2 separate regions of the Homo sapiens genome follow, and region 2 is linked to region 1. A link means that fine-mapping ties the variant in region 1 to the expression of a gene that starts in the linked region. Tissue or cell type: whole blood. Region 1 holds a variant in brackets; the other region holds the start of a gene. All regions are shown on one strand. Distances are from middle to middle.

What was found. PIP is the estimated chance that this variant, and not a neighbour inherited with it, causes the effect. A credible set is the group of variants that fine-mapping cannot tell apart.
Region 2: it holds the start of MYBL2, and the variant in region 1 is the best candidate, but not a certain one, in a credible set for the expression of MYBL2 in whole blood (TOPMed, PIP 0.85).

Annotation. Positions count from the first base shown.
Region 1 is chr20:43,711,074-43,716,332 of GRCh38, reverse strand. MYBL2 (MYB proto-oncogene like 2) reads right to left here. Exons shown (of 14, transcript NM_002466.4): 11 at 4,732-4,845; 12 at 3,227-3,331; 13 at 1,050-1,199; 14 at 1-374. The coding sequence ends at 246. Among named protein-coding and RNA genes, the nearest start is that of GTSF1L, 13 kb to the left of the region's middle. RefSeq lists an enhancer at 5,182-5,251. The variant T/C (reference allele first, on the strand shown) is at 2,920.
Region 2 is chr20:43,664,279-43,669,278 of GRCh38, reverse strand. MYBL2 (MYB proto-oncogene like 2) reads right to left here and starts at 2,165. Exons shown (of 14, transcript NM_002466.4): 1 at 1,976-2,165. The coding sequence starts at 1,995. RefSeq lists enhancers at 1,260-1,309, 2,076-2,370 and silencers at 1,960-2,339, 2,076-2,370.

The DNA.
Region 1 (5,259 bases):
CCTTGGGGAGGGAACCAGGCAGACCTGGAAGTGGAACTTTGTTGTTAGCACCAGGAGCCGCCCACAGCTGGGCTCGGCAACAGGGCAGCACATGGCCCTGTTGCCTCCACCTGAGAGTCTGGGGAGGGGCTGGTGGCAGAAGGCTCCCTGCAGGAGGTCACCTGAATGACTCTCAGATTCACAGACCCCCTCTGCCCCCACAACCCCTGTAAACATGAGAATGGGCTCGTGACACCCTCAACACCTCAGGACAAGATGAGGGTCCGAGATGTGTGGCTGGGCTTCAGGCGGCCCAGGAGCTGCCGGGCTTTCTCCTGCATGAAAAGCTGGTCCCTGGTCCCCCCGCAGGCCACCGTCTTCCAGGCACTGGACATCTGGGAGGAGGCAAGAGGGTTACCATCCAGGCAGGGACTATGTGTTCCCAACAGACCCTGGTGATCCTGGCCAGGGAAGGGTAGAGTTATAAGCCTCCCTCCCCTAGAAGCCAGAGCCTTCTTATTCTCTCTCCACATTCCCTGTGACCCTGGACAAGTCACTTCCTGGCTGTGGGCTTCCTCAACTGTAAGTAGGACGCTGGACAAGGAGACATGGCCATGCACTGCCCGCCCCGTGCAGCACCAGCCTCGAGGAGAAGCCACAGCCAGGAGGCGGGTGAGAAGGAGCAGTGAGACGGGTCAGCAGCCTGAAGCCAGCCCCTGCTTGAGGACAGACATGTACTAAGCAAACCAAATACAGGGATAATGACTTAGTTACAAGTGAAACCCAGGCCACAAAAGAGAGAATGGCAGAATGGGGGTATCTCTACAGAATGTAGGGTCAGAGAAGGCTTACCCCTAAGGAAGCAGCATTGAGACTGAAATCAGAAGAGTAAGTTAAGCAAATGCAGCCACGGGAAGTAGCAGGAAAAGCACCCAGGCAGAGGAACAGCCTATGCAAAGGCCCTGAGCTAAGAAGGCGGGCACTGCAGGACCCCCAGGGATGGCCAGCACTCAGCCCTGAGCTAAGAAGGCGGGCACTGCAGGACCCCCAGAGATGGCCACAGCACTCACAGGGGCAGGTGTCGTGAAGTGGCTTCGGGGCTTCTGGGCCACTGCTGCCTTCTCGGGCTTGGCCTGCAAGAAGCCCTGGTTGAGCAAGCTGTTGTCTTCTTTGATACCTGACAGGGTGAGGCTGGAAGAGTTTGAAGGGGCAGTTGTCGGCTGAAACCAAAACCAAGTCAAGGAGTCACCATTTTGCGAGAAGCTGTGAGAGGGAAGAAAAAAACCCGCAATCCCACCCCAGCACCACCACCTGGCTGCTGAGACCTGAAAGAGGATACACACTTTTCCAAGCCTCAGTTTCTGCTTTCAGATAGGGAGTTTACATGAGCTTAAGCTTACTTTATACTTAAAAGATTAAGCAAAGGGCCAGGAGCGGTGGCTCACGCCTGTAATCCCAGCACTTTGGGAGGCCGAGGCAGGCGGATCACGAGGTCAAGAGATCGAGACCATCCTGGTCAACAGGGTGAAACCCCGTCTCTACTAAAAACACAAAAATTAGCTGGGTGTGGTGGTGGGCGCCTGTTGTCCCAGCTACTTGGGAGGCTGAGGCAGAAGAATGGTGCGAACCTGGGAGGAGGTGGAGCTTGCAGTGAGCCGAGATTGCACCACTGCATTCCAGCCTGGGAGACAGAGCCAGACTCCGTCTCAAAAAAAAATTAAGCAAAGAACTTAATCTTGTTCTAAAGAACTTTCTTACTTAAAAAAAAAAAATCAAGTAATCAAGTAAAGAAACGTGTGTGCGTTTCAGAGCCTGATTCAGTGGTGTGTCTGGAGGCACAGTCAAGTACGTGGGGGCACATCAGCCCTGGGATGGGTGCCGTGCAGCCCCCAGGCCATAATAACATAATCAATAAATGTGGAGTATCACTGAGCATTATCCAGTAATAACATACTCAATAACGTTGGCTTTGTCACATAAAGCCTCAGGAGGAGCCAAGGCTGTTCCTAGTTTTCCTGGGACCAGAAACATCCACAAGCATCATAAAGACGCAGCTTCAACCCCAAGCACAGCGGAGTTGCACAAAGCCCCTCCCACGCCCTTCCAGTCTCTCTGCTCTGCTTGGCACTGTGCCCTCCTGACTTAGGCTTGGCACCCCTTTTATAGGCTTTTAACTGGGGCTCAGGGAACCTGAAAGATCCCAGAGAGCAGTGATGGTGTCATAACTCAAACCCAGGCCCACCTGACTCAATCTGTGCTCTTCACTCCCTGCGGTGATGTTTTTTTCTTTGCAGTAACCTGGCTGCAGGTCCCCAGCCTGTCAGAGACCCCTAGCCAGGACAAGGTTTCTCTGCAAGGACCGTGAGGGCAGCAGTCTACTTGGAAGATCAGGCAACCCTTAACCTTTGTTCATGACGCCGCCATGCCTCTCACCGCCTCCCCACTCTGAGCCAGGGCAAGCCAACTCACCCCATTGTGAGCAGAGAGGGATCAGCAGCACACCCTGGCTTCTGGGGACCCAGGCTCTGCACAGGCAACAACCCCCTTTCTGAGGTCGACCTCACTGTAGCACCCGGCACAGCAAGTCCACTGGCCTGGGGGCTGTATAGCACCCATCCCAGGACTAATGTGCCCAAGTGCCTGGCTATACCTTAAGACACATTACTAGGCTGGGCACGGTGACTCACGCCTGTAATCCCAGCACTCTGGGAGGCCGAGGCAGGCAGATCACCTGAGGTGGGGAGTTCGAGACCAGCCTGACCAACATGGAGAAACCCCGTCTCTACTAAAGATACAAAATTAGCCGGGCGTGGTGATGCATGCCTGTAATCCCAGCTACTTGGGAGGCTGAGGCAGGAGAACAACTTGAACTCGGGAGACGGAGGTTGCAGTGAGCCGAGATGGCACCATTGCACTCCAGCCTGGGCAACAAGAGCGAAA[T/C]TCCAATTCAAAAAAAAAAAAAGAAAAAAAAAGACACATCACTGACCCTCTCTGGGAGAGCGCAGGAGACCCAGATGCATGTTTTTAAAACATGTCCTAGCCGCGCAACTCTGCCAAACAAAACCTTCTGTGAGAGACAAGCAGAGCTGCTGACTGAAGCCATGAGTGGGTGCCCGGACCCACCCTCCCTGATAGCCCCTCCCTGCAGAGCCCAGGGTTCCAGAAGCCCAGTTGGAGAGTCACTACACTAACTCCACCTTGAGGGTCCTCTCCAAAACTCAACAGTTCCAAGGAGCAGAAGCCTTACCAAGGATAGAGACTTGGGCAGTGTGGACATCATCAGCTTCACATCCTCATCCACAATGTCAAGAGCCAGAGACTTCCGGACTTTCTTGATGGGGCTCCGCCGCAGCTAGGGGTTGGCAGATAGAAGGGGGTTAGGGTGAGTGTCTGGATTCCCCATGGTCAGCACCTGGATGGTCATGGCCATGGATGGTCACAAAACCAGGCCCTGCTGCAGTGCAGACTTGGAGCAAGGCCCAGCTAGTGGGAATCTGCTGTCAGAAGAATGGGGTGGCTGGGAAAGTTAGGCCCCATGGCCCCATTAGACTCTGTACCCAAGGTAGACCCTATCCTGCCAGGTGCTGCGACAGTGAGCAGGAACACAGCATGAACCTCCACCACGAAGTGACCTGTTCTCACCCCGAATGGACCAGACACAGCCCCTCAAACAGGCCCAGCAGAGAATCACCCCAGTAACACCTAAAATAGCACCCACAGGCCAGTAATATGGGAACACAAACCCCTCAGGACAAGCCCCTCTACAATGCCTAATACAATCAAGGAACGCCCCATTCCTAACCGTGCACCTCACAGAAGCAGGTCCAGGGCCTGCTCCGATACCAGGGAGCGGCTCTGAGAGTCACATCCCCACTCTACCCAACAGTGCACTCAGCAGGGGCTGCCATGGCTCACAACCATCCCCACCAAGGAGAGGCCAGGGAGGACCCTGGAGGCCAGAGGCCAAGTTCTCTCCACGTGCACATGGGGTGCCAGCTCGGGCAAGTCCCGCCCAGGCTGACCGCCCACCTCCCCTCCTTACCTAACACCCTGTACATCCCACCGTTCCCAGCTCTCCCTTGAGGAGAGCAGTCTGGGAAAAAGGAGCACTAGGAGACTCGAAGGGATCGCGCACTGTCATGAAAGCTAACGACGCAGTGGGAGGGAGGCTGGCATAGAACGGAGGCTTGGGACAGTCCCTTCCCTGCCCCCCTGCCCAGGAGCCCCTGCAGACTCCACCTCACCTGAACCCACTCCCCCACCCCCAGCTCATGCAGCTTGACACTCAGCCAGGCACTGCCTGGCCTGGCTGGCTCATCCCGACCGCCTCGCCTCCACCCAAAAGATTCCTTTGGAACCTCCCTTTCTGCGGCCCTTGGTACCCTGTGAATTCAGTCATGGTGTGTCTGTCTAGCATCTGTCTCTGCCCCCTGAACACTAAGGGGAGATCCAGTCTGGGTCGTAATTGCTGCTCCATCCACCACATCCAGCCCAGCCCAACTTGAGCAGGGTCCGAACACAATGCTGGATAAGTAAGTGAATCCTTCAAAGCAGAGCAGAGGAGGGTCCCAGAGACACTGTCCTTATCTTGTCAGTTTCCTCAACAACCACCGTGCGAAAGGGGGCAAAGGGGATATGCTACGCCCCCATTCTCCCCAGCGCCTCACTTTCTACAACCTGTCCCCAGACGCCTCCCCCATGCCACGGCTCCAATTCCCCCTGCCCAGGCTCTCCCACCCCTACCCTACTCACCCCAGGCTTCCTCTTCTGCTTCTCGGGCCTGATGTCGTCCTCGATGATGAGTTCGATGCCAGCCTCAGAACGCAGCACCTCCTTCAAGTCCTCCTCCAGGTGCGGGGTCTGTGGCTGTGGGTAGGCACGGGGCAGCCCACGTGAGGCACCACACTCGGGCTGTGTGTGTGTGGGACTGTGGGACCAACCCAGCTGCAACTGGGCTGTCCTGGGTAAGGCAGGAAGGAGGCCTGACGCCAGGATGCAGATCTCACACGCACCATTCACAACCACTAACTGCTGCCTTGGACAAGCAGCTGATGACCTTGATTCCCAGGGGCCTGCCATGGCTGGGAGCAGCCCAGAGACGCACTGTAACCCTCACACAGCCCTGTGCAGTAACCGTCATTTTAAGCAGGTAGAAACAGAAGCTCAGAGATCAACAGCCTGGCACACAGTCACACAGCTGCTGAATTAGGACCCCGACAGCTCAAAGCCCAGGCTCACTCAACCCTTTGTTCCACACTAATGGGGGCTCTCAAACCCATT
Region 2 (5,000 bases), 47 kb after region 1:
GTAATCCCGACACTTTGGGAGGCCAAGTGGGGGAGAATCCCTGGAAGCCAGGAGTTCGAGACCAGCCTGGGTAACATAGTGAGGTGAGACACAACGCGAGGCCACTCCCGCCCCCTTCCATCTCTACACAAAATAAAACACGCCAGACGCGGTGGCTCACGCCTGTAATCCTAGCACTCTGTGAGGCCAAGGCAGGCGGATTGCCTGAGCAACACAGTGAAACCCATCTCTACTAAAAATCCAAAAAATTAGCCAGGCGTGGCGGCGTGTGCCCATAGTCCCAGGTACTTGGGAGGCTGAGACAGAATTCCTTGAACCCGGGAGGCAGAGGCTGCAGTGAGCCGAGATTGTGCCACTGCACTCCAGCCTGGGCAACACAGAGTGGCTCTGTCTCCTAAATAATTAAATAAATTAGCCAGTTGTGGCGGCCCGTGCCCATAGTCCCAGCTACTCAGCCTGCAGTCCCAGCGGGCTGAGTTGGGAAGATCACTTGAACCTGGGAGGTTGGGGCTACAGTGAGCTATGACAGCACCACAGCACTCCGGCCTGGACTGCAGACGGAGACCCTGCCTCAAAAAAAAAAAAAAAAAAAACCAGGGCAGGGTCTGATAGGCGCCTGAACAGAAAACTCTTCCTGGACATTGGCCTGGGAAAGTGGGGCCTGAGGAACACAGTCCCTGTGCTCAGATCCCTATCCTCAGCCTGAAAGGGCAAAAATCTAGAGGGATGGAAGGCTTCATCTTTAGATGAGGCTATCGTCTAAAGAGGGACCGAAGTTTGGCCGGGCAAGGTGGCTCACGCCTGTAATCCCAGCACTTTGGGAGGCCGAGTCGGGCGGAACACAAGGTCAGGAGATCGAGACCATCCTGGCTAACATGGTGAAACCCTGTCTCTACTAAACATACAAAAAATTAGCCCGACGTGGTGACACGTGCCTGAAGTCCCAGCTACTCGGGAAGCTGAGGCAGGAGAATCGCTTGAACCTGGGAGGCGGAGGTTGCAGTGAGCCAAGATCGCGCCACTGCACTCCAGCCTGGGCATCAGAGCGAGACTCCTTCTCAAAAAAAAAAAAAAAAAAAAAAAAGAGGGAACGAAGGTTATCTGAGCTGCAGCGATCCAGGCAGGGAAGAGGTCAGGACCCCACTGTCCTGTCTCCCAGGCAGGCTGAAAAGCTTGGAGCTCAGGCCCCAGGCGCACAGGTGTAAGACAGGGATCTGGAGCCACAGACCTGGCTCCGGGCTCAGCTCTGCCACTTAAGTCTCTGGGGAAATAAGTAAAATGGAGACCGCAGTTCCTGCCTTTGCCCCAGGGACTCTCTCTCTCCCCCGCACCTTCAACCCCAGCTGCCCAAAACTCCTCGTGGGAACAGGAAGAGAGGTCTCAAACCGAACCAAGCTGGGGCGCGGAACCCAGGTGGGAGAGACAAAAGAGCCCCCAACTCAGCACCCTTCTCAGTCCAGGGGAGAGGGCTTGGGGGACTCTGTGCTCCCCGGAATGTTAAGGAGCAAAGCCCACCCACCAAGTTGACCCAAAACTAGGCTGCAACAAGTGCCTCCCAGGCTCGGTCTCCCACTGGCTGGGACTTGAAGACTCCCTCTCGCTCCCAGGGGTCGCCTCCCTCGCCGGCGAAGGCCCTGCCAGCTGACACCGGCCGGCCCACCCCCATCCCGCAATTAGGCGGGAGACAAAATGACATCATGCACGGCTTGGCCCGGGTCCCAAGAGACCCGCCCGTCCCAGCTCCGAGGCCCAACAGGCCTGGGGAGCCGCGAGGGACGCCCAAGAGCCCCCCAGCTTTACGCGCGCCCCTGCCTCAGAGGGCCCAGGACGCAGCATTTCCGCGGAAACACCCCACCCCCAACACACACACACACCCCAGCTTGGTGGGAGCCTGGGGAGGGTCGGGGGTATCTGGGTGGGGGAGGGGTGAGTTAAAGGGAGGGGGAGGGGCCCAAGCCCTCCCGGCTCGTCTCACCAGCGCGTCCGCCGAGACATCCCCCCGGCCCGGACCGCGCCGCGCTCGCCCGCCCGCCGGCAGAGCCCGGAGCGGGAGCCGGGCCGGGGTCAGGACCCGGGCTGCTCCGGCCGCTCCGGGCCCCGGGCCGCGCTCGAAGGCGTCAGCGTGTCAGCAGGTCCCGCGCTCCTCGCTCGCAGGAACTGCAGTCGCCGCCGGCGCGGGTTGAAGCACTTTTCTATCTCCCGCCAAGCGCGTCGGCGCCGCCCAGTCCTGGCGCGCGGGCGCCGGGGGAGGGGCCTGAGTGAGGGGCGGAGCCAGGGGGCGGGGCGGGGCGGGGCCTGCGGGGCGGCACCTGCCCAGACCCTCCAGGGCCGGCTGCAGGACAGGGGCGGCGGCCGCTACTTCGGAGTTGTGGAGCGGGCCGGGATGTGACCGAGGCCTGGCTCACGTGTCAGTCCGGGGCGGCCCAGGAGTATCCCACATAGCGAAGACCGAGGAAGGGGAGCGAGGCGCGAGCATGGGAGAGCCAGCCAGGGAAAGCGCCAGGGCGGAATCCCCCACGCTAGTCCAAGCCACTACTGGGTCCCTAGAGCCGCACCCTAAAGCGGCTCCTCACCCTACCTGTGCCTCTCCCTGCTTCCTCTCCTGCCTCCAAGAGACCCTCCTTAATAGACTTTATTTTTTGTTGTTCATTTTTCTTAGAGGCAGGGTCTTGCTCTGTCGCCCAGGCTGGAGTGCAGTTTCGCGATCATAGCTCACTGCAACCTCCACCTCCTAGGCTCAAGCGATCCTCCTACCTCAACTCACGGGTAGCTAAGACCAGGCACTCGCCACTACACCCGGCTGATTTTTTTTTTTTTTTTTTTTGAGACGGTGTCTCGCTTTGTCGCCAGGCTGGAGTGCAGTGGCGCGATCTTGACTCACTGCAACCTCCACCTCCCGGGTTCAAGCGACTCCCCCGCCTCAGCCTCCCAAGTAGCTGGAACTACAGGCGCACACCACCACGCCCGGCAATTTTTTTTTTTTTTTTTTTTTTTTTTTAGTATTTTAGTAGAGACGAGGTTTCACCATGTTGGCCAGGATGGTATAGGTCTCCTGACCTCGTGATCCGCCCGCCTCGGCCTCCCAAAGTGCTGGAATTACAGGAGTGAGCCACTGCGCTTTTTTTTTTTTTTTTAAGAGAAGGGGGTGTCTTGCTATGTTGCTGTTGCCTAGACTGGTCTAGAAACTCCTGGGCTCAAGAGATCCTGCCGCTTTGTCCTCCCAAAGTGCTGGGATTGCAGGCGTGAGCTCTTTCCAGAATTTAAAACCATCCTCCTCTCCCTCAGGGTAAATTCCTTACTCCACAATCACATTTATCTGATCTTCCAGACCACCACCCAGCCCTGGCCAAAAGAAACGGCCTCTTTGCCTTTGCCTGAGCCATTACCCAGGGCAGGAACACTTCCTGCCCCTCCCACGTGGCTGATTCCTATTTAATTTGGGGTCCACTGCCCACAATCTGCCTGTAGACTTCTGCATTTCCCCCTTTGAACTGGGAGCATCCTGAGGTCCAGGTGGCCTCTCAATGCACACCAGTATCTCCAGGGCCCAGTAGAAGACCTGACATAAGAAGCCCCAGGCAAAGGTTTGTTGCATTGAATTGTTTACCTTGGGTTTAAACTCCCAGAGATTAGCCCAGATTTAGTGGCTCATGCCAGTAATCCTAGCAGTTTGGGAGGCCGAGGTGGGAGAACTGATTCAGTCCAAAAGTTTGAGACCAGCCTGGGGATCAGAGTGAGACCCTGTCTTTACAAAAAATTAAGAAATTACCTGGCTGTGGTGGTGAATGCCTGTAATCCCAGCTACTTGGGAAGCAGAGGCAGGAGGATTGCTTGAGCCCAGGAGTTCGAGGGGCTCAAGCCCTTGTCATCCCGCCACTGCACTCCAGCCTGGGCGACAGACAGTGAGACTGTCTTTCCTTGAGATTTAGCAAAGGTTTTCTATATTAGATTGACATTTACCAAGTACCAAGGATCAAGTCACACTGGACTTCCTGGGAGCAGTGCTGAGAGGAAGATAAATGAGCTCTGAGACAGGACGCTGAAGAAACCAAATCAAACCCCAGCCTTTTAGCCCCTGTTCAGGCCTCAGAGCCCCCTTCCAGAAGCTGCTGGCCACCTGGGGACAGTCCAGCCACCAGCTGCTGCAAACTTCACTTACCACAGAAGGAAGACTAACTCACATCTTAAGTGCTAGAAGCTTCCACATCACTTAATTCAGGGTTTCTCCCGCCCACTCCCCTTATAAAGTAATTAATGTGGACATGCCCACTTCATTGAAAGCACAGCCTCCACAGCCAAACTTCCTGGGGTTTGAGTCCCAGCTCCACCATTCAGTTGCGGTATCTTAGGCAAATTACTTAACTTTTTTTTTTTTTTTAGACCAAGTCTTGCTTTATTGCCCAGACTGGAGTGCAGTGGTGTGATCTTGGCTCACTGCAACCCCCACTTCCCGGATTCAAATGATTCTCCCACCTCAGCCTCTCGAGTAGCTAGGACTACAGGAATGCGCCAGCATGCCTGGCTATTTTTTGTATTTTTGTAGAGATGGGTTTTCATCATGTTGGCCAGGCTGGTCTTGAACTTCTGACCTCAGGTGATCTACCCGACTCAGACTCCCAAAGTGCTGGGATTACAGGCATGAGCCATCATGCCCAGCCAATTACCTAACTCTTCTGTGCCTCAGTTTTCTCACCTGGAAAAATGGGATTTATCAAAATTTTAGATAGTTTTTAAACTATCAGCCTCCCAAGTAACTGGGGTTACAGGAGCACGCCGCCATGCCCAGCTAATATTTCCAGCCAGCATTCTGTTTATAAATTGTAACTCATTTAATCCTTGTAACAACTCTATGAGGTAGATACTGGGATTATCCTCTTTTAGCAGATGGGAAAACTGAGGCACAGACTTCCCCAAGGTCACAGTGCTAGTAAATGGCAGAGCAGGGATTCAAACCTGGCCTGTCTAGTTCTAGAGTCTATGCTCTTAATCACTATACTTTG